Regions from separate parts of the Homo sapiens genome. Here region 1 is linked to region 2. Evidence: fine-mapped expression QTL. A gene starts in region 2. The other region holds a variant in brackets. All regions are shown on one strand. Distances are between the middles of the regions.

Evidence for each region. PIP is the estimated chance that this variant, and not a neighbour inherited with it, causes the effect.
Region 1: its variant is the best candidate, but not a certain one, in a credible set for the expression of CHMP3 in sun-exposed skin (GTEx, PIP 0.61).

Annotation. Positions count from the first base shown.
Region 1 is chr2:86,584,106-86,586,605 of GRCh38, forward strand. The region is part of intron 3 of RNF103-CHMP3 (RNF103-CHMP3 readthrough); the gene reads right to left. All of the region lies in intron 5 of CHMP3-AS1 (CHMP3 and RNF103 antisense RNA 1), which reads left to right. Among named protein-coding and RNA genes, the nearest start is that of CHMP3, 22 kb to the left of the region's middle. The variant C/T (reference allele first, on the strand shown) is at 1,321.
Region 2 is chr2:86,562,383-86,564,882 of GRCh38, forward strand. CHMP3 (charged multivesicular body protein 3) reads right to left here and starts at 1,061. Exons shown (of 6, transcript NM_016079.4): 1 at 922-1,061. The coding sequence starts at 966. All of the region lies in intron 3 of RNF103-CHMP3 (RNF103-CHMP3 readthrough), which reads right to left. It overlaps CHMP3-AS1 (CHMP3 and RNF103 antisense RNA 1), which reads left to right. Exons shown (of 6, transcript NR_183901.1): 2 at 464-538; 3 at 886-1,017; 4 at 1,306-1,400; 5 at 1,595-1,758. RefSeq lists enhancers at 487-656, 667-766, 924-1,218, 1,377-1,436.

The DNA.
Region 1 (2,500 bases), 22 kb after region 2:
AAAGAACTATGGATACATGCAGCATTATGGCTGAATCTCATAGGAACCACCACGCTTTGCTTGGACTCAAGCTTTTTGCACTGCAGTCAGGAAACTGTCCTATGCAGACAGCTGAGTAATCATGGAGCCTACCCTGTTAGTTTCCTTTCTCTCAAAGATCTCAATCTTGTACTTATCTTGTACTTCCTGTTATTCATTGCCTGAAAACAGCTATCTCATGTATTTTTGTCTGGTTTTACAGTTATTTGTAGCAAGAGGACTAGTCCAGTGCCAATTACTCCATCACAGCCAGAAGTAGAAATCCTGAGTCATTTTAAGAGGTAGCACTGCACTTGGGAAAACTGGATGTTGGGGTTGAGAGCAGAATGAAGATTAGATGACTACAGGGGCCTTTACTCAGACTGGCATTATGGCATACAATATATAGGTGGAAAGATGACTAGCAAATTTTGGATATGGTGTGATTAAGATGCTGTCATAGTTAAAGGCTAAGCTGCTATAACAGATACCTCAAAATGCAATGACTTAAATAAAATAGAAGTTTATTTCTGTTTTGTGGAATAATCCAGTAATTTCCATAGTAGGGCAGCTCTGCTCTGTGAAGTCATGCAGAAACATTGGCTGGCTAAGCAACTGTGTCTGCCAGTCATACCTAACTTTCAAGGTTGCATCCATTATTAACATATCTAGCAGGTTAGAAGTAGGAAGAGAAAGAAATAACACACATACCCAATGTTTTAAGTCAAAACCCAAAACCGGCAGGCATTATTTTTGCTTACATTCTATTGGCAAGAATTAGTCACATTGCCCACACCTAGCTACAATGTGGGTTGAGAAATATAGTTAACAACTGGGTATTTGTTCAGCTAAATTTCTAGTATACTGATCAAAATCAAGGCAAGGATGTCCCTTCTTATCCTTCCTTTCAACATTATACTGAAAGTCCCAATGAATGCAATAAGACAAGAAAGTAAGAGGTATACTGATTGGGAAGGAAGAAATAAATCTTTGTTCAAACATGACATGATCATCTATGTAGAAAATCCAAAAGAACTGACAAAAAAAAAGAGAAAATAAAAAACCTTCTGGAGCTAATAAGCAATTATAACAAGGTTGCAGGATACAAGGTTTATATATGAAAATCAATTGCATTCCTATACAAATGGTCCCCAACTTACAATGGTTCAACTTACAATGGGGCAAAAGTGATTGGCAACCATGAAGTTTCAGATTTTAACCACTGGTGATTCTTTGTCCAGAGACTCTCTGGGCTGCATTTCAGGCTTACAACATTTTCAACATGGGTCTATTGGTACATAA[C/T]TCCACCGTAAGTCAAGGAGCATCTACATACAGCAATGAACAAGTGGAATTTGAAATTTAAAACACAATAACATTGACATCAGCAACCCCTCCCCAGGAAGTACTTAGATGTAAATCTAACAAAGTAAGTACAAGATCTATATGAAGAAAATTACAAAACTCTGATGGAAAAAATCAAAGAAGAACTAAATAAATTGAAAGATCTTCTATAGGATAGGAAGACTCAATATTGTCAAGATGTCAGTTTTTCCCAACTTGATCAATAGTCAATGAAATTTCAATCAAAATCCCAGCAAGTTATTTTGTGAATATCAACAAACAAATTCTAAAATTTATGCAGGGGACAATAGGCAGAATAGCCAACACAATATTGAAAGAGAACAAAGTTGGAGGACTAAGATTATACAACTTCAAGACTTATTTTTAAGCTACAATAATAATATCACGATTAAAACAGTGTGATAATGTCAAAAGAATAAACAAATAGACCAATGGAACAGAATAGACAGCCCAGAAATAATCCCACATAAATAAAATAGTCTATTGGTATCCACAGGGGATTGGTTCCTGGACCTCCTGCAGATATCAAAACCCACGGATGCTCAAGTCTCTGATTTAAAATGGCATAGTATTTGCATATTACTTATGCACATCCTCCTGGGTACTTAAAATCATCTCTAGATTACTTATAATACTCAATACAACATAAATGCTATGTATTAGGTTGGTGCAAAAGTAATTGCAGTTTTTGCCATTACTTTCAAAGGTAAAAACCACAATTACTTTTGCACCAACCTAATAAATAAGTTGTTACACTGCATTGTTTAGGGAACATGTTCAGTATATTTCTAATATTTTTGATCGATGTTTAGTTGAATCCATGGATGTGGAACCCACGAATATGAAGGGCTGAATGTACAGTCAACTGATCTTTGACAAAGGAGCAAAGGCACCACAAGGGAGGAAAAGATAGTCTTTTCAACAAATGGTGCTGGGACAACTGGACATCCACATTGAAAAAAAAAAAAGGAATCTGGACACAGACTACACCCTACACAAAAATTAACTCAAATCGGATCATTGACCTAAATGTAAAATGCAAAACTATAAAACTACTGGAAGATAACATAGGAGAAAATCTAGATGACCTTGGGTTTGGTGATGATATAACTTGGTGATG
Region 2 (2,500 bases):
CTCAGTGGGTCTGGAGTGGTGTCCGAGATTTAACAAGCTCCCAGGTGATGTTGATGCTGCTGGTTGGCATTTGAGTAGCAAAGCTGTGCCGTATTTAAAGAATTAGCCCTAACTACCAATATGAAAACTTTACATCCCTGAATCTTCAATTACTCTGAGGTGACACTACTATTATTCTGGCTTCACAGTCGAGAAGGCACTGAGAAGTGAACTTTCCAGAGATCACAGAGCTGAGATGTGGGAAGGCAGGATTCAAACTTAGGTTGACTGACTGCAGGGCATTTTCAACTGTTTGCCTCCCAATATTATCTCAATTAATAGGTAACGAGAGTTCGAAGCCGGGTCCAGAGCTATCTTCTGTAACATTCTTCTGGGTCGAGTCCCTGCCCCGCTACGGTATGTGCCTAGGGTCAACACAAGGGCTGGGGAAAGAGGAAACTGAGCCTCTTTTTCAACACAACAGGGAGGACGGAGAACAGACGGCTCCTCCGGCAGACGCGACCCGGCCCGCTCCAAACAACGCTTCGGGCAGGAGAAGGTTCTCCGGGTGGTCCGCAGCCGGGCTGGAGGGGTGGGGCCTACGCTGGGAAAAGGTTCCGGGCGGGTCGTACCAACGCGCGCAGGGGGAAGAGGTTTCCGAGGCCAGGACGGTGTCGCTGCCTACGCGCTCAGTGGCGAGGTGGAGAAACTCTTCATCCACCCTCGGCTACCTGTTCGAGAGCCATGGCACCAGGAGCTCTCGCGTCCCACAGCCGACTCCTAAAGACTCTTCCTCCGGCCCCCCTGTCGAGTGGGAGTCCCCGGAAATGGGGGCCGGGCGGTATCGGGCAGGCGGTGGGGAGAAGAGTGTCCTGTCATTTACCAACTTCACTACGCCCCACACAGATCCACCCGCTTATCTGCCGCCGCCGTAGCCCTTACCAGTTCTTTGGGCGGCTTCTCCTGGGTCTTTCCAAACAGCCCCATGACGAACTGAACCCGTCTTGCCCCTTCCGGCTTTCAGTTCCCCGCGCCCAGGCAGGTCACGGGCAGCCGCCTGGGCGGGGCCCGCGGAAAAGGAGGTAGTCCCAACCCCCAGAGTAGGGAGCGGCGGCACTAGGGGATGTTGCGCATGCGCCATACGCCTGCGCAGAATCGAGTGAGTGGGAGACTAGTCAAAAAGGCTGACGTCATCGCACATGTTCTGGTCATGTCTGTGTGGGGGAGACCACGGATTCGGTGCTTTTCGTAAGGTGTAGAAATGATTGCTCTGAAAGATACGAATTTGTTGGCTACAACTGCTTCTAATACTTCACCTAAACCTAGATGTTGCACCAGAAGTCTGGATCTCCACGCAGACGTGTACACTTAGCATCACTTTCCCGACAGCTTCATCTTTGTGTCCAGTAGGCAACTCACAGGTGACAAACCAAAAATAACCTCTTTTTCCTCCCGCCAACCCACTCCTCCCCTCTGCTTGCACCACCATCACCTGGTCACTAAACCCTAGGCATCGTCCTCTCTCCCCTCTTACCAAGTCCCAACCATTCTAACTTCAATATGTCTGAACTTCAACCCTCCCCTTTCCATCCCAACTGCGGTCGTTTTTTTTCAGGCCATCGCCCTTTCCAGCGTGGGCGATTCCTGCCTAGCATTTGTCCATGTGTGTCCCGTCCTACACGCCACACTGACCGTGAGCTTAATCACACTCTCAAAGGAATCTGACTAAAGAGAACTAGACACATTTTAGCACGGACAGTTCCTGATTAGGCCTATACGGTGAGCTGATGGTTACTGTCATTAACTCATCCGAGGATGGTGAAGGGGACCATTTGTTACCTCAGCCCCATACTCCTGTCTCTGGTGGAATCATAAAATGGTTCGGCAGCTTTGAAAACATTTTGACAATTTCTTAAAATGCTAAACAAAGCCAGCCTTCCATTCCTAGCTATTTACCCAAGAGGGAAAAAAGCATATGTTCTTACAAAGACTTGTACACAAATGTTCATAGCAGCTCTATTTGTAATAGCCATAAACTGGAAACAATCCAAATGTCTATCAACAAGTGAATGGATAAACCAGTCGTGATTGATCCATACGAAGGAATAGTACTGAGCAATAAAAAAGTAAACTATTGATAAATGCAACAGCATGGATGAATCTCAAAATAATTCTGCCAAGTGAAAGAAGCCAGAACCGTATGATTCCATTTACATAACATTCTGGAAAATGCAAACTAATACATAGTGACAGAGAGTACATGGGCGGTTGCTAGCGGATAGGAGTGGGGTCAGAAAGAGGCAGAAAAGAGGGATTACAAAGAGACACGAAGTTTAGGGGGATGATGGATAATATCTTGATTGTGATGATGGTTTCACAGATGTATACAATATCAAAACTTACCAGGTTGGACACTAAGTATGTGCGATTTATTTTATGTCCAATCATACTTCAATAAAGTTGTTTTTAAAAAAGCACTGCCTGTTCATTGTGAAAAGTTAAACCCTCATTCTCACTTCCT